3 separate regions of the Homo sapiens genome follow, and all the other regions are linked to region 1. The links come from fine-mapping of genetic effects on plasma protein levels. A gene starts in region 1. Each other region holds a variant in brackets. All regions are shown on one strand. Distances are between the middles of the regions.

Region 1 (8,275 bases):
ATAGCTTGAGCCTGGGAGGTCAAAGGTACAGTGAGCTGTGGTCATGTCACTGCACTCTAGCCTAGGTAACAGAGTGAGAGCCCGTCTCAAAACACACACACACACACACACACACACCATATAATTCCATTTATATGAAATGTCCAGAATGGGCAAATCTATAGAAATAGATTAGTGGCGGCCAGGCACAGTGGCTCACGCCTGTAATCCTAACACTTTGGGAGGCTGAGGTGGGCGGATCACCTGAGGTTGGGAGTTTGAGACCAGCCTGACCAACATGGAGATACCCCGCCTCTACTAAAAATACAAAATTAGCCTGGCATGGTGGCGCATGCCTGTAATCCCAGCTACTCCAGAGGCTGAGGCAGGAGAATCACCTGGGAGCCAGAGGTTGTGGTGAGCCAAGATTGCATCATTGCACTCCAGCCTGGGCAACCAAAAAAAAAAGTAAGAAGAAAGAAAGAAATAGATTGGTGGCTGCTTATGGCTGGGGGTGGGGAGGGGGAAATAGAAAAATGAGTGACTACTAATGGCTAGGGTTTTATTGGAGGGAGTGATGAAAATGTTCTAAAATGGTGACACAAGTTGCACAATTCTGTGAATAGACTAAACTACTGAACTATTATACACTTAAATGAATTGTATCATAGTGAAATATATGTCAATAAAGTCGTTACTTAAAAATCTGGAGTCACAGATCTTAGGTTTAAGAATGCCAAATATGGAAGTATATCTCTTGTGTTCAACTCATTTTTTTCCTTCTAGCTCTTTCTCCTTAAGAACCCAGTAAGCATTCACTAAAGGGCTAAGCCAAAAGACAGCTGAGCATGGCCGCACTATGCTGCCCCCTCCTGGGATCCCAAAGGATCTTCTGAACCCAAGCTTATGCACAGGACTTTTCCCTTCTCAAGAGATGTCCCTCTCCTAGTTAGCACTCACGCTCAGAAGATAAACCCTAAAGGACAAGGGTTTTTGTCTCAGGGCCAGCAATCAGTTCAACTTCTATTCGTGGCCTGTTCCCTTCTCTGAAGACCTCTGGACTCTGATGAAAAAATAAACCCTACCTTTTCCATCAGCCCCATTGACACACCCATACAAGCCAGAATTTCCAGAAGTGACTCTCATACCCGGTTACGCATTCTTCACAGTGAATGGAACAGACTCTTGTCCACCTGTGGACAGACCTTTTACTGGAACACAATGGGTAACAACACTTCAAGATCCAACTTAGGTCTCCTTCCTTCATAAGTGTTCCGCAATTTAGCAGTGTTTCAGTTGTTGAAAACCCATTTTCTCTTTTCAGGTTAGTATAGCCTTACCAGAAGATAAGGGGAAACTTTCTGGGGGACCACCCCTCACCCACAGTCAGTTCAGGAGCCTGTGATGGGGGCATCACCTCCAGCTCCAAGGATAGAACATATGACTGTTCTGACCAAGTTCATTGCACCATATCTCCCAAGCTCTTTCCCCTGCACCAGTGGGTTTCAAATTTGAATTGTAGCAAACAAAATCTGATACAAAACCCTGACATACATTTGTTTTAAACAAAGAAGAGTTGATGGTAGTAATATTTCTAAATCTCACCCTCTTGGCCTGCACTTGGATAGACACTATGTCCTGCACTGTGGGAAAAACAAAGGAATAGGACATGATGCCTGCCTTGAACACCTTGCAGTGGAGTTGGGGGCAAGAAACAAAAGCAAGAAAATTAATGATTAAATAATACTACATAATAATAGAAGAAATCTCACAGAGACTGCCGCTTATCAGAAGGGGGTTAGAGGCCTGCAGTTCAGCACTGAGCCTTTTGTTGCCTCTCTTCTTCTAAGCCCTACTCATTGTCTGATATTTAGCTTGGCTGTGACCTTCCCCAGTAAGACGTTTCTGGAACACCCTCCTGCCTCTTCACACACACACACACACACACACACACACACACCACCCCCTTCAGCCCAGATTAGAGCTCAGTGTTCCTGTAATATCTCTGTACAGTCTATCACTGCATTTACCATATTTTAAAACAACGTCTCCCCAACACTTCACAGTATAGGCTCTGAGTTTCATAACGGCACAGAGTGGATACTGTAAGAATGCAGTGAGACTCTCCCTACTCCATGCTCCTTTCTTCCATCTTTTGTTCCACAGATGTCAGCCCTACATCAGTCTGCAGGCTGCTCCTGTCTGCTCCAAATCCCTCCCCCAGTAAGTTTCTTGCACATCTAATCCCATCTTAGCATCTGCTTCTTGGTAGACACTAACAAATTATTATAAGGAATTACTTTGCACTACCATATTTATACAAAAAGTAGTTAGTTCATGCATTTAGAATATTGGTTTGTTGGTTGACAATGTTAAGCCTAATGACCTATACCTTTTGGGTACTGACATACTTAATTTTGCACTTATTAAACTGTGACTTTCCAAAAAAAAAAAAAACTTTCATTGTACCATTAGGATATAATATTCTTGTTAATATTACAAAAACCAAACCAAAACAAAAACCATGCTGCAGCCTTAGGAGAACTTGCTTCATGTAACTAAGGGTTTTTCTTTTTCTTTTCTTTTTGTATTTTTTTTTCCTGTAGGATAACATAGTGTTAAAAGCACAAGCTTCTGGACTACTTGAAATCAAACCACAGCTTAACCAGCTCTATGGCTTTTGGCAAATTACTTCAACTCTTTAAACCTGTTTCTGATCTGTAAAATGGAATGATCCTTGCTCATCTGTAATATATACATTTATAAAACAGGACCCACCAATGGGATTATTTTATGAATTAAATGTTAAAACAGCTAGAACGGTGCAGGCTGAGTAAGCACTGAACACAGTACTTATTAGCTATTATCTCTGGTGCTCTGTGCAACGAAAGAACTATTAGAATACATTTAAAAGCACTTTGCAAACTAGAAAGCCCTTTGAACAATTTAGTTTCTCTAAATGTAATAATAAGCATCAGCCATCGCCTTTTATGGAAAATTGAGGTGGAATCACATCAGCAAGAGAAAACTGAGGACTTGTCTCTGGCTCTGTTCCTGATTTATTCACACAGTACATGATCCTAGAATAAGACTCCTGATACTCCTGAAAGTAGAGGCGGTTGGGTTAAAAATAATTTTCCCTTTCAAAACTCTTTCAAATGTTCTCCAAAAGAAGCCAGGAAAGCTCCCGTATGAGTAGATAATTCACTTTAAAATTCGCTCATCTCTCTTTAACACGAGAGTCTGCAGGGCTGGTGCAGCGGCGTCAACCCGAAGAGACCTGAACGCCGATGGGCAGTTGGGATTCTCCGTACGCCTCGGAAACAGCAGCCCAAACCTCACAACGCAGAACCACGAGATAGTGGGGATTGCAGAGCCCTGCGCAAGAGAAGGAAAATTAAGACGCAGCGGAGCCCAGGAGGTGCCCGCACGCGGGAAGGACTGGCGTGCAGACGAGGCAGGGGGAGGTTTGCACTCGGCGTGGCGCGGGTGAGCCGCGTGCTCTCGGGCACCCGGCCGCCAGTTCGGATGCTTCCGATCCTCGGGGAGCCGGGGCGCTGCGCCGGAGTCACTTCAGCCCATGTTGTTCAGGTGACACCCGGGGAAGAGCAGACTCCAGTGTGCAAAACGTTTCGGGGTTTCCGGGCCAGCGGTTCCGGGCGCGCCTCGCGGGCGGCGGCGCAGAACTACAACCCCCAGGCTCCCTGGCGTGGCGGCACGTGGGCCCGAGCCGGGCGGCCGCGGATATAAAGCGCGGCGGCGGCTGCCGGGCGGAGCGGCTGCACGGACAAGAGCGGAGGCCTGGGTGAGCGCGGCCCGCGACGGCACGGGCTAGGACAGACGGACGCAGACGGCCCGACGACCTGGGCGTTCGGGCGGAGGGGCGCTGGGGCCTGACTCGCGGGTGGGTGAGACGTTGACGGACCCGGAGGAAAGAGGGAAGGCAGATACGCTGGGAAACGGATCTGGGGAAGGTGTGAATGCGAAAAGTGTAGGGACAGACGGGGGCAGAAGAACTTACTCCCCCGGATTGTTTGCAGACAGCATATCTGCCGGGTCTCCAAAGGTCCTTTCCTCAAAATAGAGTTAGCAATTGAGCAGAAGAGAGCTTAAAGTTAAACCTGATACATCCCCCCTTCACTTGAGGAGAAATTGGTGGTTTTCTGCTTTTTTAAAAATCCCTATTTGTATCTCCTCTTCTCCGAGTACCTGTCCCTCAAGATATTCTCTGCCCAGAGGTACATTCTGCCCTCACTTTCTGTCTCTTAAAAAAACAACTTTGCCATTTAAAAAAGAATTTGACTTAGGCAGCTTTAATTCTTTGCACTGAGTGTTCTTATCTGTGGATGGAGGTATAAGATTTCAAGAGTAATACCCCCTCCCAATGTTTCAGTAATAATCTAAATTCACATTAAGCCTTAGGCTGGAGAACATTTGAGCTATTCGCTTTAGCTACGAGCTCTGAAAACTTCAAAGCATAACATTCCCAAGTTTATCTAAAACTTGAATCTTAAAAATAATGATAATTATCTGTTATGCTTCAAAGCATAACATTCCCAAGTTTATTAAAAACTTGAATCTTAAAAATACTGATCATTCTCTGTTAAAGTCTTTTGTTGTTGTTGTTGTTGTTGTTGTTGTTGTTGTTGTTGTTGTTTTTGAGACGGAGTCTCGCTCTTGTCGCCCAGGCCGGACTGCAGTGGCGCTATCTCGGCTCACTGCAAGCTCCACCTCCCAGGTTCACGCCATTCTCCTGCCTCAGCCTCCCGAGTAGCTGGGACTACAGGCTCCCGCCACCACGCCCGGCTAATTTTGTATTTTTAGTAGAGACGGGGTTTGGCCATGTTGGCCAGGCTGGTCTCGAACTCCTGACCTCAGGTGATCCGCCCACCTCGGCCTCCCAAAGTGCTGGGATTACAGGCTTGAGCCACCGCGCCCGGCCAAAGTCGTTTTTATCCCATTTCTTCCTGTAGGCGTTTCAAAGTTTGCAAAGGCAGCAAACTTTTACGTAGTGTAGTTATCTGTGCAAAGAAATTTTCCAAGCTGCCATTGCCCCCAGATGGCAGACAGTCTAGGAGAGGAGCCAAAACCACCCTGCTTAATAACTCTGATGTAAGGTTTTTAATGAAAAGCCACTGTTTGGGGGAATTCTGAGGTTTAAGAAATTATTTTCGGCTGGGGTATCAGGAAATCCCCTGGTTTTTAAAATGAGAGGTTTTTTGGTTTTTGTTTGTTTTTGTTTTTAAGCTATACCTGCTGGAATGGATAAAGTGAGCTTTAAAAGTTGATCAGACCGAAGAGATTGAAGTGAGAGAACCACAGGAACAAAGGCAAGCAGACAGACAGTGAAAGGTAGATAGGAGGAACAGCAAACAGTTTGTTCAGCTGGGCAAGTATAGTGCAGGCACGAAGATTTCAATAGAGACCCAGACCCCAGGGAGCTGGTTCTTTAGCCTACTGGCATTTTCTAAACAGGACAAAGACAAGACCAGAAATGCTGGTGTTACTGGAAGATTAATCTGACAGCTGGTGTGGATTGAAGAAGAGAAGAGGGATTAGGACAGTGATTCCTAACCCCTATCCTACACTCCCAACGGCCCCTTGTTTTGAATTTTTGAACTAATCAAACTACATTTGTGGTAATTAGTTTTATTTCTTTCCATTAAAGACATATAAAACTGCCAATTTGAGCTTCTGATGATTCTAAGAACATCAGTGTTACCGTCCTTAGTATCAAATAAATGCAGGCAAAAGCACAAGACTACGGAGTTTTATTTAGCCTGAACAGCCTAGTAGTGTTGGATTTAGGAGGTGTTTAATGCTGACTCAAGCTCTCAGGACTCTTATCACTTGAACCTTCTTGGGCCCTGTGGACCTGGGGTTTTGCCTATTTGTCTAGATAAGAGGTAACGAAGGGAAAAATTATAAAGGCGAAAGGAGGAATAGCAGGGGAAGAAGATAACAGAATTGAAATGACTTAGTCCCTAAATAGACAAGAGTAGTGAGTGTTGGAAAGGAGGCACTAGCAGAGCAGAGATGACTGGGAAGATGATGCTGGTAAGGGCATGATAGTATTTTCTACTGTCCTATACACATCAGGCAAGACTTCATGGAGAGCACTGAACACGTACTCACTATGTGCCTAGCATTGTTGTTAATCACTTTACATGAATTAGTTCATTTAATTCTCTCAACCCTATGAAATATAATTACTATTATCCTCATTTACAGAAGGGGAAACTGAAGCAGAAAGAGGTTACTTAATGGGCTCAAGGTCACCTACCTGGTAAGTGGTGGAGCCAGGATGCAGATCCATGAGGTCTGACTCCAGAGCTGGCCCTCTCACCCCTCTACAGTAAGGAACAAAGGAGATGGCAGGTCCCTTTGGGCATGTTAAGTTGAGATGTTTGTGGGAGTGCTAGGTGAAGATATACAGCAGGCATAGCATCAATCTCCTTTGATACTTAAACATCCCTCCAGTGGGGAGATGGCTTAGGTTATGGGCCTTTAAGGCTCAGAGGCTAAGTGGCCTGCTTATTGTACTGAGGGTGGTCACATGAAGCTCAAAGAGTGATTAGAGCCACATCTTATGATTTATTATCTTGTGTTTTCCCATGGGCCAGGTTATTGGATTCATCTTTCTAAACTTCCAATCTGCTTTTAGTCTCATGTTTGAACTAGGAAATACAGAGCAAAGCTACATGCAGGACTTGGTCTTGATTTTAGGAGCAACTCTTGCTGAGAACATGTCTGTTTGCAAGGAAAGTATCGTGTTGTCTTTCTACTGAAAACAGTCAGTGTTTCTCAAGGGCTTACCTGAGCCAAGACTCTTGGGGAAGAAAAATAGAAGATATGGTCTCTGTACTTCAGAAGTTTATTCTCCTATTTGGGAAGATAAGATGAACAATTAGAAGAGCAAACAAAACAAGATAGCTTATAACTAAGTACTACATTATGTGGGTTAGATTTAAGTATAGTGGGCATTGCATTTTTGAATGTGCCAGTAATGTCAGAACTATAGCATAACCCTTCTTGTTGGTCACCTACAGACATCACTTTATTTGCTACAAGACCACTATCTTTTGTAGAATTGTCATCAAATACTATCTGATTATATTTTATTTTCATTTTCAATTGTTAGACATTAAATTTGTGGTCTGAAATTGCATTTGTGGCTTTTTATGTCTTATAGCTCAAAAAACAATAATGCTTCTAGAACTAGCAAATGTCAGAGCTGTGAGTTGAACCAGGTGGTCTGCCTATGGAACTGAGGCTGTTAACCAGTCTGCTCTGTTGCTTCTTGTGGCCCATCCAGAGTCTTTTACACTGATTATGGGCAGGTACACTCTCTGCCAGATGGTGAGAGATCCTTTGGCCCCAAATGAGTGGTGTGAGTTGGACTCTTCCAGCAGTGCGCTACCCATCTGTGGAAGCCATCATCCAGTCACAGTCTGAACACCTCGTTCAGTCACCCACATATTCTTCGCTCTTGAATTGAACACCTGGTGTCAAGCAGAGGGCTCACTGCAGAGAGCAAAGGCAAATGAAACATCCCTGTCCTGGGAGCCTGCTGTAGTGGGGAAGAGGGAGGTGAATATGCAGTCTACATGGTTAACTAGAACTAGGAAAACTGGACAAAACTGGGCAAAATTAGGATATAAAAAGATAGGTAAATCTGAAGGTAGTTATGTAAATCATGATGAAACCTTAAGACAGGCTTGTTTTAGGTGAGATTCTAAGAATGAAGACAATGGAAAGAGAAAATGTCCCCTTTTATGACCATATTTCAGTTTAAGTAATAGTACAGTTGACCCTTGAATTACGTTGATTTGAAGTGTGCAGGTCCATTTACACAGATTTTTTTCAACCAAATACGGATAGAAAATCAGTATTTGCAGGATGCAGAATTCTCATATGCCAGGCTTGGGGCTGACTGTGTGACTTGAGTAGGCATGGATTTTGGTATACACGAAGGTCCTGGAACTGATCTTCTGTGTATACTGAGGCATGACTATAATTCACTGTATGTTTTACTTACCTGAGTTAGGTTCAAGCTCTTTCTTGGGTCTGCTGCTGTTAACCTCTATCCTTTGAGGTGTTAGATTGCTTCCATCATCTGTATAGCTAAAATGGGAGACTGTCCACGTAGTATTTTCTCAAGTCTACCCTCTCCTGTCTTAAAGTTTCCTCCTCAATAGAATTAAGCACTAAAATTTTACCATCTTGTACTTGCTCTGTGTGTTTGTGTACTTGTAAGCACATTTTACAGTTCTAAACTAGAAATGGACTTTGCCTG
Region 2 (8,000 bases), 340 kb after region 1:
CACATGCCTCTTACATTTTAAGAGAATGGTTCTGCTCACCCTGTTGTGTGGGAAACTTACAGTGTCAAGAGTGGCACTTCACCTCTTTTAATATCATCTGCCAAAACAACATATATGAATGTGCCATCCTTTGAGACTGGAGAAGTTTATAAACCTTGGGCTTGACTCATTTACCGAGCACTTTTAATACATGATTTGGGTTGATTGTCACAACAATTAAAGTGAAGTAGGCAGACCAGGTGCTTCCTGTCTAGTGAGGAAATAGAGATGTGCTCAAGGTCACTCTGGTGGTCTGGCCCCGTGCCAGGGCTGCAGCCCAGGTCCTCTGCCCTCCACTGCACCATGTCTTCTCTCATGTGATGATTACACTAGATTACCTGTAGCCAGTGGTAATCTAGCACCAAAAATGTCTAAGGCCTTTCTTTCATAACATCAGATTGTCTCATCCCCAGGTAAGAGATGTGAGCTCTGTGATGATGGCTACTTTGGAGACCCCCTGGGTAGAAACGGCCCTGTGAGACTTTGCCGCCTGTGCCAGTGCAGTGACAACATCGATCCCAATGCAGTTGGAAATTGCAATCGCTTGACGGGAGAATGCCTGAAGTGCATCTATAACACTGCTGGCTTCTATTGTGACCGGTGCAAAGACGGATTTTTTGGAAATCCCCTGGCTCCCAATCCAGCAGACAAATGCAAAGGTAATCAGCCTTTGATCAGATTCTGTCACAGCTAAATGCCCCTTTATTGTGAGAATTCTTGTGTGTCTCTTAAAATATGTATAGTTGTTTAGTCCAATAGAAATACATTGTGAACCGCTTTTGTCTTTTAAAATTTTCTAGTCACCACATTAAAAAAGTATAAAGAAGGACAGTCATGGTGGCTGACACCTGTGGTCCTGTAAAAAGAAACAGGTGAAATGAATACTAATGTATTTTATTTAATATATCCAACATATGATTTCAATAAGTAATCAATAAAAATTGTTAATGAAATATATGTTTTTTCTCACGCTAAGCCTTCAAAATCCAGTGTGTATCTCACGTTTATAGCACATCTCAATTCAGACTCACCAGCCACATTTAAAGTGCTCAGTAGCCACATGTGACAGCAGCTACCAACCTGGCAACACAGGTCTAAAGAATCTCTTTAGGTTGTTTATATTTTAGTATTTCTCTCAGGTGATTTGTGTCTTTTGCCATCTCTGTCTTCCTGCCTTAGCCTGCAATTGCAATCTGTATGGGACCATGAAGCAGCAGAGCAGCTGTAACCCCGTGACGGGGCAGTGTGAATGTTTGCCTCACGTGACTGGCCAGGACTGTGGTGCTTGTGACCCTGGATTCTACAATCTGCAGAGTGGGCAAGGCTGTGAGAGGTGAGACATAGGTGCCTTTGGTGAAAGTAATCTTTGCTTTTTCTGTTATAAAAAATGAATTTTTATAAGTACATTTAATAATTGACTGTTCAGAAATTACTGGAGCGCCTAATGTAGGCAAGGCATCCTTCAGGGGCAGTGCTGGAGAATTGTAATAAAGCTAATGAAAGAAAGGAGTGGAGCACAGTGGCCCCAGCTGTGCCAGAATCACCTGAGCAACCTTTTAAAAGCACAAATTGCCGGGTCCTTTCTGAGGCACTTAGAATCAGACCCTTCAGGGTTGCAGCCTGGGAACTTCTGTTTTCAAAGCTGCTACTTAGTGTCCATACAGTCCCAGGCTGGAGAGCACTGGTAGCAGTTAAGTTAGGAAAAGAGGTTCTGAATAGCACTCATGAAAATTACTTGAACCTTAGGGGCTTAATAACCCTTAACATTCCATCTTAGTAACCCTTACCATTCAGTTTTCTGATACAAGTTACAAATTACATCAGTGCTATACTAAAAAAAAAAAAAAGTTGTGCTTAAAGTCTGTTTTTCTTGCCTGAGAAATGTCCTGTGTTCATTTTCAGGTGTGACTGCCATGCCTTGGGCTCCACCAATGGGCAGTGTGACATCCGCACCGGCCAGTGTGAGTGCCAGCCCGGCATCACTGGTCAGCACTGTGAGCGCTGTGAGGTCAACCACTTTGGGTTTGGACCTGAAGGCTGCAAACGTAAGGGGTGTTGGTGGCATACAACTCTAAGCTTCCACTAATTCCAGTTAGTGTCTTAAGGCCAGAAAGGACTTTGACAGCCTCAGTCTAGCCACTTGACTCATAGTCAGGGCTGTACCTAAGTCATCGTAGATGCTTTATTTGAAGAATATTATCCATTTCTAAAACTCTGCAGATCAAAGCCTTCTCTGGTTTCTTTGTATGTTTTCTTTTACAACGTTTCTGATGCTTCCTTTTTCCAATCTTTTATTTTTTCCAAGGAAGTCTTCCTTTGATTACTGAGCTTTCCCACTGTGGTTCATGAAACTTCTTTATTGATTGCATTCTTAGTGCAGATAATGAAATAGTGGAGGATTCTGTTCACAACATGTTTGTTGACTTGCTGTAGTTGCTTCCCACCCTTGGGGCCCTTTTGGTATGATTACGTGTAAACATCTGCTTCTCCTTGGCATAAACACTTGCCTGGAATTGGGCCTCAGAACAGATTGGCTTTTGCTTTCTGAATTCCTTCATTTCTCCTGTGGAATGTAGCATAAGTAATTGACTCAGTTCAGAGAACACAGTGAATAAACAAACTATAAGATAATGCAAAAGAAGCATTAGCATTTGGGTTTTCTAGTTCCTTAGAGAAATATTAAACAGTGGAGAATTGAAGGTAGAGATGAATCCTTGAAGTGCATGAAACGAGCACTGATAGTTTCATAACTTCTCTAATTGCTAAGTAACCTGAAGTGTGTCCCAAAGGTTGCACGTTTTACTTTAAAGCTCATTTTGACTTTTAAAAATGTCAGTTTTCTCTGCTAAACAGACTTAGCCATTTAAGATCTCATAAATAGTCCTGTTTTTCAAAAAAATTATGACAGTATAGTCAGCTTATAGTCAGCTTATTGTTATCAGTCTGAATTAAGAGATATACTCTTCCTTCTTTTGCTAATTATGTATTATTTTCTCCTTATTCTGCAGCCTGTGACTGTCATCCTGAGGGATCTCTTTCACTTCAGTGCAAAGATGATGGTCGCTGTGAATG[C/T]AGAGAAGGCTTTGTGGGAAATCGCTGTGACCAGTGTGAAGAAAACTATTTCTACAATCGGTCTTGGCCTGGCTGCCAGGAATGTCCAGCTTGTTACCGGCTGGTAAAGGATAAGGTAAGCTGTCAATAGTGCATTCATTCATTCATCCAGCAGACGTTGAGTGGCAACTTACTGTGCACTAATCTCTATAGAAAAAGTGGTGAACAAGGTAGATGTGGTCCCTGTTCTTAAAGACTTATGTTCCAGTTGGGAGGCAAATAATAAAAAATAAATAAATAAACAAAACAAACACTGAGATAAGTGCCAGGAAGAATACAAATGGAGAATAACTGGGGGAAACTACTTTATGTAAGGCCTCTCTACAGAATTCATCTAAGGTGAGATCTGATGGATACAAAGGAATGAGCCGAGTGAAAAGTAATGGTAGGTTTGTTCCAGGCAGAAGGAACCTGGTATACAGAGGCCTGAAAGCTGGAGAGTGGCTGGAGCCTGCTGAGTGCAGAGGGTGTGTTCTGTTTTTTAAGACGGGAGAGGTTGGTACGGACAGGTTATATGGGAACATGATGACCATAGTAAGAAGTTTAGATTTTATCCCAAATCCAATAAGAATGCATTGAAGAAACTCTTAAAATCTGGGAAATCCAGATTATATTTTAAGAGGAGCACTCTTGACTGATGTGTGAAGAATGATGGTTAGGAATGGGGCTTAATGGGAAGCCTCAATTGGATTGGATAAATATGCGTGTTTGGGGACAGGATAGGAAAAGAGAAGAATAAGGATGTGTCTTGGGTTTTTTGCTTAAGGTAGCTGGAGGCCTTATTTACTGAGATGGAGATTCCTCAGAGAGAATAGAGGTAAGAGGTATAATTTTGGATGTTAAGTTTGAGATACCTATCAGAGAGCTGAGTGGAGGTATCACGAAGGTAATCTGACACTCAAGGGAGAGGTCAGAGCTTAAGACTCATCAGCATACAGTCTTTAAAGTCAAAGGAACAGCTCTGAAGGTTTTTTTTGAAGCTGGAAAAATAAACTAGCCACGTCTTCTCTTCAGAAGTAGACATGCATGGAGTGGATAGAACTACATATTCATGCAGCACACCAACATGGCACATGTATACATATGTAACAAACCTGCATGTTGTGCACATGTATCCTAAAACTTAAAGTATAATAATAATTAAAAAAAAAAAAAAAGAACTACATATTCATGGAGTGCCCATGATTCCTGCAGGAAGTGTGATTGAGTTCTTCAGGAATACTTGTGTGTCCTACCTTTCCCTTTTCTTTCTTCTTTATGTTTAGGTTGCTGATCATAGAGTGAAGCTCCAGGAATTAGAGAGTCTCATAGCAAACCTTGGAACTGGGGATGAGATGGTGACAGATCAAGCCTTCGAGGATAGACTAAAGGAAGCAGAGAGGGAAGTTATGGACCTCCTTCGTGAGGCCCAGGATGTCAAAGGTACGCATGATTGAACAGTGCATGACTTCTGTGAGATGGACCAATCTTTAGATGTGGCTCCTAAAGCAAGGTTAGTATAGTTTTATAAAATTCTTTCTCAGTTTTTAAACTACTCATAGATTATAAATCATTTCATTTTTTAAACACTAATTCAAAAAGCAACCTGACAAATTTACTGCTTTAAGCTACAGTAAGCATAGGGTGATTTTCCAACAAATAAAAAACTATTCGATATTCAAATTTCAAGCATTTTATGAATCTGTTCTATTACAAGGTGTCTTAAAATATTAAAATAGTTTTAAAAATCATTAAAGGCATGCGTCTTCATAAGCTTTTTTTTTTTTTTTTTTTTTTTGAGCCACAATCACTCTGTTGCCCAGGCTGGAGTGCAGTGGCGCGATCTTGGCTCACTGCAACCTCCACCTCCTGGGTTCAAGTGATTCTCCTGCCTCAGCCTCCCAAGTACCTGGGACTACAGGCACATGCCCACCATGCCCGGGGTAATTTTTTTGTATTTTGAGTAGAGATGGCGGTTCACCGTGTTAGCCAGGATGGTCTCGATCTCCTGACCTCGTGATTTGCCCACCTCAGCCTCCCAAAGTGCTGGGATTACAGGCTTGAGCCACTGCGCCCAGCCAAAAAATTTTTACATTATCAAATAATTGAGTAACCTTCCAAGCAGGACCACCATATATAGTTAGGCAAGAGTTTGTAGAATGTCACCTCTGCACATACATTTGGTAGCCAAGTTCCAAGTTGGTTTTTTCCAAACCTGTATTCATCTTCATTGGTCTTACCTTTGACTTCTCATCTTTTTTTTTTTTTCCCACATTCCTTAGAAAATTTAGACCCCAACACCGAGCATGATGCTGAAATATGAATTGGTCAATTTACTTAATGGTTTTTATATATTAATAAAACCTCATGATACATGAGAGTTTTAATAATAACAGACTTATATTTATCTTTTGATTTGTTAGGACCTGAGTATGAGATTTAAGTTGAATGAGCATATTAATAAAGAATAATTTGAAGAACTATTCAAAAACAGAGATCAGTTTGAAAGAAATTACACTGATATGCTGGCACATGGGGGTGGCAAAAGAGTCTATTTAGTTTAAAATACAAAATGAGTTTAATTTGTCATACTTCAACTTATGTTTTAAACCTAGTTTTTTCTGGGTTTTGAAAAATGTTCGGCTTTTAGGGCTGGCAGCATTTTTAACAACATTGTAGATTTATGACTAAATTGCATGTGCTGGTATTAAAGTCAGTCATTCTCACCTTCATTAAACATTCCTTGGGTGTCTTCTCTTTGCCAACCACTGCATAAGACCAGCGATATAGTGGTGAGTAAGAAAGAGTTCGTAGTCAAGTGGACAGATGGACGCACGGTTGGAGGTGTGATGAGTGCACAGTGAAGGACCTACTGGGTGTGGTAAAGGCTGTCCAGCTATGGCAGGGGCTTTGTGGAAACCTGGCAGAAAGTTGCGATGTTTAGAAGAGTAGAGATACATAGGGCCTCAGATTTCATGTGAGATGATATGATCCTCTTCAGATAATTTACAGACTTTCTTCTGCAAACCATTTTAGATGTTGACCAGAATTTGATGGATCGCCTACAGAGAGTGAATAACACTCTGTCCAGCCAAATTAGCCGTTTACAGAATATCCGGAATACCATTGAAGAGACTGGAAACTTGGCTGAACAAGCGCGTGCCCATGTAGAGAACACAGAGCGGTTGATTGAAATCGCATCCAGAGAACTTGAGAAAGCAAAAGTCGCTGCTGCCAATGTGGTAAGTGATTGCAAACGTCTGAGGTGGGGATGGGGGAGGCCCCTGGGGTTTGTAGCAAGTCTGTTACTGGCAGTGGAGTGCTTCTTCAACTAAATTGACTCCATGCATCTTTTTATTTGTCCCTAAATATGGGGCAGAAAAGCCACATTGCTCATAGTTGGCATGAAACAGTTATTAAAAACTGGATAAAAACCAAGGGACATCTGGGTTATTTCTCTAGCTTTGTTCCTTCTATGGAACTAGGCAGTTTAATCTTCCTTTATCCTTTACTGAAAATAGAATCTGCAATCAAGGGTGCTGATATTAAATAAAGATCTCTGAAAATAAGAAGAGGTATTCTTGGGGCCAGGCGCGGTGGCTCACGCCTGTAATCCCAGCACTTTGGGAGGCCGAGGCGGGTGGATCACCTGAGGTCGAGAGTTCGAGACCAGCTTGACCAACATGGAGAAACCCCGTCTCTACTAAAAATACAAAATTAGCCGGGTATGGTGGTGCATGCCTGTAATCCCGGCTACTTGGGAGGCTAAGGCAGGAGAACCACTTGAACCCAGGAAGCAGAGGTTGCGGTGAACTGAAATTGTGCCATTGCCCTTCTGCCTGGGCAACAAGAGTGAAACTATCTCAAAAAAAAAAAAAAAAAAGGTAGAGGCATTCTTTTTGCCCTCTAACAAAAATTTAGTTTTGACTCTTGCTTTATTAAATGTAAATAATTCAGTCCTTTGAGAATAAGTGCTTTATTTCCTGTGCAGTCAGTCACTCAGCCAGAATCTACAGGGGACCCAAACAACATGACTCTTTTGGCAGAAGAGGCTCGAAAGCTTGCTGAACGGTAACTTCTAGATCCCTGTTTAATGGTTAAGTTGTGGCTTCTGTTATGGGGTGTGTGTGTGTGTGTGTGTGTGTGTGTGTGTATTGTCTTATCCCATAACCCATAAACACTTTCTACATAACCCACTTTTGCACACTTTGCTCTCTTTTCTAAGATATTATCAGCTGTGTATACTCTTTTCTTCCTTTTACTTTGACATTAGAATATTCACTTTGAATATTAGAATACAATGGTTTGAAGACAAATCATATTTATATTTCTCAAAACCATAATATTTTTAGATTTTTAACTTATTTAAGACTGTAGTAACTGAATGAAACTAGCAGATTGTTGTTAATAAAGATTAGGCATGGGATTTGTTTTTAACTAGGTAAATGATTTCTTGCTGGCATACACAATTTTATATGTACATTACTCTCAAATAATTAAATTTAAAAGTAGTTTTTCTGAAGAATTATAAACATTTTCTCTTATAAATGTATACCAATAATTTTTTTGGAAAATATTCTCATCTCAGTTTTAGAATGCTATTCATAAATTCAGCCCCACTGAAATGATCACAAAATTCCAAATGAATGACGTTTTCTAATATTTGTAGAATTGTTGCCCATGTTAGTATATGTACATATAATAAAGTAGGCCGGGAGCAGTGGCTCATGCCTGTAATCCCAGCACTTTGGGAGGCCAAGGCGGGTGGATCACCTAAGGTCAGGAGTTTGAGACCAGCCTGGCCAACATGGCGAAACCCATCTCTACTAAAGATGCATTAGCTGGGCATGGTGTGTATGCGTGTAATACCA
Region 3 (8,275 bases), 370 kb after region 1:
ACATTGATCCAGATATGAAAATGCATGGACAGAGATTCAGTGATATGCCACTGAGAAGTTGAGTTTTTCTGGTTTTCCTCTCATCCATTCCTCTCTGTGTATTGATGTCCTGGAGACCAAGCCCTGTGGTCTGTATTCCCAGAGAGAACTCATGCTCCCTATGCTCATTGTCCATGTTCTAGTTTTTGGCTGATCATGTTGGCCACTCTTGTAATGTGATGTTGTTCTCATAAAACCAGTGACGGCCAGGCACAGTGGCTCATGCCTGTAATCCCAGCACTTTGGGAGGCCAGGGCAGGTGGATCACCTGAGGTCAGGAGTTTGAGACCAGCCTGGCCAACATGGTGAAACCCCATCTCTACTAAAAATACAAAAAATTGGCCAGGCGTGGTGGCGGGCGCCTGTAGTCCCAGCTACTCGGGAGGTTGAGGCAGAAGAATCACTTGAGCCTGGGAGGTGGAGGTTGCAGTGAGCAGAGATTGTGCCACTGCACTCCAGCCTGGGCGGTAGAGTGAGACTCGGTCTCAAAAAACAAACAAACAAACAAAAAACCACACACACACAAAAACCAATGACAACATAGCAAGTTTTTGGTTATTTCAAGCTCTCGTTGCTTATTTGAGGCTTTAAAGTGCCTAGTCATTAATCAGGGCCCAGAGTATAAAGATCTTACCATGTTGACATCAAAAGCATACCAATGGTAGTCTACTGGTGTCTTACTAAATTCTAAGGAAGGTCTGTCAAAAACTATTGAGGGCTTTATTATGCTCTTGCACTGAGCTTTATGAGGGTTGAATAGGTAATAAGACCAAGTTTGTATTTGCACAGGATTGTGGACTGCAGAACATCTCCAAGAGTGGTGGTTCTCAAAGTGAAGCTCTGGGCCCAGCAACATCTGTCTTGCCCGGGAACCTCTTAGAAATGCATTGTCAAACCCCACCCTAGACCGACTGAATCAGACAGTAGGGGTGGAAGGATTCAGAACAGTCTGGGTTTAATAAGCCCCTCACCTAAGTGATTCATCACATCTAATATATCTAGTAACTAGTGTACTGGTTCTTAACAATTTTCCCCCTGGTGTTAGCTTTCACCATTTGTATATCCTATGTGTCTGCATGTTGAACTCAACCAGACATTATCTTTACTTTCAGCTGCCCTTGCTAGGAAACAGGTTGCAACCTCTTTGAATTAGGAAGAGAGAAGTTCAGAATGTGTCTGTGCTCATCACAGAGTTAGAAACAATGAATGTTAACTCTTCTCTGAGTTTCTTAAGAAACTGAGATACTCTAAGCATTGTATAAACATTGACTTGGTTAATTAATCAAGATGTTCCATCTATGGAAGACAAAAGCCTTCTGAAAAACTAGGTGGAGACTGATACGACTGATACTGATTTTTAAAAACTTAACATAAGTATTTTAGTTCCCCATCAGTTTCTCTACTTTTCACACGATTTTCTAAATGGCAATTTTTTTTTTTTTTTTTTTGAGATGGAGTCTCCCTCTGTCACCCAGGTTGGAGTGCAGTGGCCCGATCTCGGCTCACTGCAGCCTCTGCCTCCTGGGTTCCAGTGATTCTCCTGCTTCAGTCTCCCAGGCAGCCGGGATTACAGGCCTAAATGGCAATTTCTCTTCATAGATGTGAACAGGCTGAGAGATGGTGGAATGGGCTGGGCTTCCTGGGGTTCATCATTACTCTCTACTGCTAGGACTTGGCACGTTTGTTCTGCATGGTTCCATGAACATAAAATAAAAGCGAGCCAAGTCTTTTAATGTGGGAGATGCATTTGAAATCAGACAACCAGTAAATATACCAAAAGACATCAAAACAAGTTCAAGTAAACCTTAGGCCCTACTGAGTGGCAGCCACCGTTCATGGACAATTTAGGTGTGTGATCTCAGGTTAAATCTCTCAATCTTGCCTGTGTTTCCTGTAAATGGGAACAACACTACCTTATAAAGTACTTCACATAAATGGGTAAGTATATGAAACAATATACAAAATTTAGTATAGTCATGGCAAACAAAGTTTTTGTGGGGCCTGAAGCTTGTACAATTTGGGAGTCCTCTTTAAAAAAAAAAAAAGAATATAGGATTTCAAAAGCAAGCACAGGGCTGGGAAGGGGTCCCTGAGCCCTGCTCTCCTCGCACAGGAAATCCACCTTTGTGCAGTTACTCTGTTTATTTTAAGCCAGGGGAGAGCAGAGCAATTGCTTCCTTCATGTGGAGGTGTCCATCAGTGGCTCCGTCACTGGGCGTGTGCATGACTGTACTTCCCTCTGCCGCAGACACCTCAGCCACCGTCTAGCCAGGCAAACCTGTTTGGTGTGCTCACTGCATGATGAAGGCGGGTGTGGCTCCCAGTGGGAGTGTCCCGCCTCCAGAACATGGCCAGAGGCTACAGAATCAGACTTTTGCCAAAGGAAGAAAGAGCGCCTGAAGCATGTGTTCACCGGGCAACTATGAATGGCTTGACTGGGTGGAGCCTTCAGTATCTTTTTAGTTAAGCCTTTTAGTCTCAAAAATGGAAGAGGCAAAGCTCAATTCTTAAAGATCACTTCTTTTTTTTTTTTGAGGCGGAGTCTCGCTCGGTCGCCCAAGCTGGAGTGCAGTGGCACGATCTCGGCTCACTGCAAACTCCGCCTCCCGGGTTCACGCCTTTCTCCTGCCTCAGCCTCCCGAGTAGCTGGGACTACAGGCGCCCGCCACCGCGCCCAGCTAATTTTTTTGTGTGTTTTTAGTAGAGACGGGGTTTCACCGTGTTAGCCAGGATGCTCTCGATCTCCTGACCCCATGATCCGCCCATCTGGGCCTCCCAAAGTGCTGGGATTGCAGGCGTGAGCCACGGCGCCTGGCCAAGATCACTTCTTAAAAGAGAATTCCATCTGCCTCCACCCGCATCACATTGCATATCAGAAATGGTAGTTTTGGGGTTGCCCTCAGACCCGAGCCTGCTCCAAACAGAACACAAACTGAACAGCAAGAACATAGACCTCGACTTTTCAGCCAGGACTTGGTGCTAGCTTTATTTTTATGAAAACAAAACAAAACAGCAACAACAACCAAAACAATGCTATTTCATTGAGTTGAAAGATCTAAACTCTTTTTTTTTTTTTTTTTTTTTTTTGAGACTGAGTCTTGCTCTGTCGCTCAGGCTGGAGTGCAGTGGCGCAATCCCAGCCGACTGCAACCTCTGTCTCCCAGGTTCAAGTGATTCTCCTGCCTCAGCCTCCTGAGTAGCTGGGACTACAGGAACCCGCCACCATGCCTGGCTAATTTTTGTATTTTTAGTAGAGACGGGGTTTCACCGTGTTAGCCAGGATGGTCTCGATCTCCTGACCTCGTGATCGGCCCACCTTGGCCCCCCAAAATGCTGGGATTACCGGAGTGAGCCACCGCGCCCAGCCAGGGGAGAAAGTTCTATGAAGAAAAATAAAGCTGGGAAGGGAGAGAGAACATGTTTGGGGGTAGGGTGAGCTTACAAATTTATACAAGATGGTAGAGAAAGCCTCTTTAAGAAAATGGCATTTAATTGAAGACTGGACCCATGTAGATATCTAGAGAAAGCACATTCCAGGCAGAGGCACCAGCAAGGGAAAAGGTCCTGCAGTGGAAGTGGTCCCGTGGCTGGGGCTGTGTGAGAAGGAGGACAGTGAGACCCATGGGGTGGGAGGTGGGGCAGGACACATAGTATTGGCTCTTGAGGCCATTCCAAAGACTTTGGCTTTTACTCAGAATGAGATAGAATGCCACTGGATGCCTCTATAACAAGGAATGACATGACCTGAGTCACACTATAATAGGAGTTTCCTGGCAGTTGTGTTAAGGTAGACCAAAGTGGGACAAGGGCAAAAGTAGGGCGAGGAGATGGGATGCAATGACAATCATCCATGCAAAAGACAAGGGGGGGCTGGAATCAACGTGATTACAGTGGAGGTTGATGAGAAGTGATCCAATTCTGATTATGATCTGAAGGTAGAGTAAGACAGCAAGATTTTCTATGGAAGAAAAGAGTCAAGAATGACTTCAAGATTCTTGGACTGAACAAGGGTATGGAAGACTGAGGCAGAAGAGGTCTAGGGGGACAGAACATCAGGAGTTCAGCTCTGCATGTATTACATTGGTGATATTAATTACCCATCTAAATGGAGATTTCGATTATGCAGTTAGATATATGAGCATAGTGTTCAGGACAGCTGTGCAAGCAGGCTGAAGACATAAATTTGAAAGTCATCAGCATATATGCTTAAAGCTTTGAAACTAGGTGGGAAAATCAAAGGAGTGAGCGTAGACATAAAAGAGATTCAAGGCCTGAGCTTCTGGTGGCTTCTTCTACCTTAAGGGGCACTTCTATGTTAAGAGGTGGAGAGAAAAGGATTCAGCAAAGTAGACTGAGAAGGAGATGCCTCATGGAGAAAAGCCTTATGAGCACAATGTCCTGGAAACCAAGAAAAGAAAGTGTTTTAAGGAGAAAGAAATGATCAGTTATGTTAAATGATGCTGTCAGAGCCAAGAAGATTATGGCTGAGAATTGGCCATTGAG[T/A]TTACAACATGGAAGGCCCTGGAGACCTAGGTATAGGCAGTTTCATTGGAATAATGGAGGCAAAAACCTAATTGCCATGGAGAGGTTTCTTGAAACCTAATTGCAGCAGTTTCAAGAGAGACTAGGAGAACAGAAACTGGGGAGAGTCAGTATGGACAACTCTTTCGTATTGCTCTAAAGGGGAGCAGAAAAATAGGGCAGAAGCTAAAGTATAGCATGGGTTCAAGGCAGTCGTTTTGTTTTTTTGAGATAGGAAAAACCAACAGCATGTTGTAGGCAGGCGGGCAATATCCTAGAAGAAAGAAAAAAACCAACGATGCAGGTAGAGAATCCCTGAGTGCAGTCCTTGATGAGGGCAAGGGAGGAGCCCTCCTGTTGACCTGAGATGGGATATGTGATCATGGGGAAGGTAGGCAAATTGTGGGATGTGGCTGTAGAAGTGTGTGGTAGAAGTTCTCTTCTGAGTACTTCTGGGTTTTTGTGTGTCTTAGGAAATAAATCATTAGCAGAGTGACATGGGGGAGGAAGAGTGGAAGGTTTGAAGAAAAAGGGAAAGTGTGAAACGGTCTTTGAGGAGAACAGGAAAGCCAATGGACTGGGGAAATGGATCTGATGGCCAGGTAGTATTAAGAACCCCTTGAAGCTAATGAACGTGAATTCAAAGTGAGGCAGTAAGTTGTGGGTGTGTGTGAAGGATGGATTCTAATGACTAACCATGGAATTTAAAATGGGTTAGGAGGGCTATGATGGTAAAGGAAGGTGGGAGAAGTGCAAAGGTGGCAGGTTCAATGGATCGTAGGCTCCAGAGGGTTGAGATATTATTAAAGTCTGGGCACTCGAGTGACTGAGCTTCAAGAATCAACGGTGGTGATTAGAGACGGGGTGCTTGAAACTGAGGTTGTGGAAAAAGTACACGTGATTGAAATGGCACCATCTAGATGTGATCACAGTAGTGAGTAGCTGAAGTAGGTGTTTTACTAGATAATTTGTTTGGTTAAGTAATCACACTTTTCTCTCTTTCAATCCTGTCCCAGTTGAAGCCACTTCAGTACATTGTCCTGAAGTTTTATTTCTCAAATAAAGCCTAACGAAATATTTATTCACTTTGTCAGCCCATAGGCCATGAATGACACATCGTGACTCATGGATGTCCTGGCTCTTTGCATCCTGCACACAGACACATGATGGACACTTGATGAGACTCCTTGATACAAAAGGGTGGGTTTGAGTCCCACATGAACACTAGCGTGCATGCTTGGGGTTGATGAAGTACACTTGTGTAATTTTTGTAAAGCCAATGGTTTAAATAGGGATATCTGATTTACTCTAACCAAATATCAGATTACTGTATTTCCTTTTGTGGTTCCATGTGCATTCTGCAAACTAGCATTCTTTTAGTGTACCTCTGCAGGCAAAGAATTTGGAAACTACATACCTATAAAACATTAATCAAAGCCCTTAGATTGACTGGATCCCACCCACCACTCTCCCCGCTGAGCAATTGAGTTAATTAAAAGAAAAATATCTCAAGAATATAAGCTCATATCAATAATCTCATTTAAAAAAATAAACAAAGATTTCCAAAATTCCAAGTGAGCAAAGGGTGAGCAAAACTTTGACTTATACTGTCTGTATTAACTATAGTGCTGAATAAAAATAATGGTTAAGAATGAACAAGATCCAAAATCTTCCAGAAAGATCATAATAATCATGCTTTAGATAGTGGGTGACACATTGAGGACACCTAATTTGTTAAATGAAGGTGTGAGTGTGCCTAATCTGGAAATGAAGTGCCATACTTTAGAAAAATACTGTTAGCAGGGGTATAGTTGGCCAGAAACCACTTGCAACACCAACATGTTCTTCCCTGAACTTTCTGTGTAATGAAGGCAGTTCTCCATTTGCTGCATTTGTAGGAAATGGGGAAACTGAGGAGGCTCTGAAATGGCCATGAGAATTCTTTTTAAGAATCTTCACCACAATTACACTGGAGCTGTTCAAGGACTTTTTTCCTTCTGCTCATTTTAATGGCCTGAGATAATAGATCAAAATGAAGGCCTGTCCTCAGATGTGTATGAAAGCACAGAAGAACAGGATAAGACAGGAATCAAGGCCTCTACCACTGGGGAATGCAGGTTGCTATATACCAGGCAATGGGTGGGTTTCCAAGGAGATGTGTCAGAGCCTTGGAATGCTGCAACTGGGCTGTGCCTGACCCAAGGTGGGGGCGGGTGCAAGGAACCTGCTGGCACATTAGAGGTCTTTTCTTCTGGAGGCAAACTTTGGAGAAATGTACAACACTAGCCTATGTCTGTAAGTTCATGCTTTGGGAACAAAGTTTGAATTGCTTTCAGAGAAAAAAAATATACTGATGGGGTGAAGATAATGGTGGCTAATTTTGATCTGACCAAACAGATATAAAAACTACAGGCTGATCCAACAATAATCTTCTCCCATTTTCTTTCAAATGAGCAACCCTAAAGCATATACTTTTTAGTTTTACAAGGAAGGAGTCTCTCCAAGGAAAAGTTCAAGTGGATTTTTGGTTACCCAGCAAATTATTCTAATTAAGACATGGCTTTTATTCTAAAAATAATAATAATAATAATAATAAAAGGGTGTGTGTATGTGTATGATTTTTAAGAGCATGTTAATTCTAGGACAGTCTGAACATCTGTGTCTTAGGAGAGGCATGTTTTAGGAGATTGCCTCCTTTTGGAGGAGGGGCAGGATGCCTGCCTACAAAGGGCGCCCAGTGGCCTGGAACACCAAAAGCACATTCTCAGGGCATGCAGAGGTAACTGGTTGAAACTTGCCAAAGGATGCTTTTCCATTTGGCTCACAGCAATTCATTTATATTGGTTTTGACCATCCCACTCATTTTATTTTTAAGTCCTTATTCATTTTCGGGCCTTTCCGTATAGGGTTAGCAAGGAATTACTAATTCCGGATCTGCCCACTGTGACACTCAACTAGAAGATTAAGTCAGGTTTTAGAAACCTTGTTTTTGTCATATTTCCCCCATGCCCAGGCTTAAGAACACTCCAAATACTAATAATTACAGGAAATTCCATCAATTTGGGGGAATTGGCTTTAGACTATTTTTTAGTTGGTGTTCAGTGAAAATAAAATAATTCATTCAAGTAAAGACTAGATGGGAAAAATTACTTGAGGAGAAAAGACAAATCTCCCTTACAGAGGAACTACAAATAATTTATGTAGATGTTCTGCCCTCAAGGAGATGCAGGATAACTCACACTCCTTAAGTGTGGGCAGCACATAGCGAATTCCTCTCAGAGCACAGTATTGAAAAGGGCGGGGAGAGTCATGTTACCATGGGCAACACTACAAACTACTTCACCCAGGGGCTCCAGAGTAACCCCAACAGTGGGAAGTACTCTTGACACAATGAAATGAAAATGGCACTTGCCTCTGTGGTCTTCCTCACCAAAACTAGTAACCCTGTTCTATTATAATCATGAGAAAAACATCAGACAAACCTCAACTGAAGGATGTTCTACAAAACGCCTGCCCATTACTCCTCCAAACTATCAAGGCCGTCAAAAAACACGGACAGTCTGAGAAACTGTCACAGCCACGAGGAGTCTAAGGTGACAACCAAGTGTAACGTGATATCCTGGATGGAACCCCGGAACAGAAAAAGGACATTGGGTAAAAACTGAAGAAAATATGAAGAGAATACGAACTTTATTTATTTATTTATTTATTTTTT

Direction of the effects. Positions count from the first base shown, and alleles are read on the strand shown. Strength reflects both the effect of a copy and how common the allele is.
With allele C in place of T in region 2, the plasma level of the protein whose gene starts at base 3,752 in region 1 is higher (strong association).
In carriers of allele A in region 3, the plasma level of the protein whose gene starts at base 3,752 in region 1 tends to be higher than with T alone (moderate association).

The links. PIP is the posterior inclusion probability: the model's chance that the variant is causal. The UK Biobank Pharma Proteomics Project read protein levels with antibody pairs (Olink). The fine-mapping took linkage between variants from a reference panel, not from the people measured, so its PIPs are less certain.
Region 2: its variant is fine-mapped to the plasma level of the NPL protein (UK Biobank, PIP above 0.99).
Region 3: its variant is fine-mapped to the plasma level of the NPL protein (UK Biobank, PIP above 0.99).

The regions. Positions count from the first base shown.
Region 1 is chr1:182,786,022-182,794,296 of GRCh38, forward strand. NPL (N-acetylneuraminate pyruvate lyase) reads left to right here and starts at 3,752. Exons shown (of 13, transcript NM_030769.3): 1 at 3,752-3,784; 2 at 6,211-6,265. RefSeq lists an enhancer at 3,405-3,905.
Region 2 is chr1:183,124,179-183,132,178 of GRCh38, forward strand. It overlaps LAMC1 (laminin subunit gamma 1), which reads left to right. Exons shown (of 28, transcript NM_002293.4): 14 at 453-698; 15 at 1,219-1,372; 16 at 1,942-2,084; 17 at 3,048-3,226; 18 at 4,416-4,572; 19 at 6,166-6,371; 20 at 7,121-7,200. Among named protein-coding and RNA genes, the nearest start is that of LAMC1-AS1, 13 kb to the right of the region's middle. The variant C/T (reference allele first, on the strand shown) is at 3,112.
Region 3 is chr1:183,157,831-183,166,105 of GRCh38, forward strand. No RefSeq gene overlaps it. Among named protein-coding and RNA genes, the nearest start is that of LAMC1-AS1, 21 kb to the left of the region's middle. RefSeq lists an enhancer at 1,284-1,785. The variant T/A (reference allele first, on the strand shown) is at 4,543.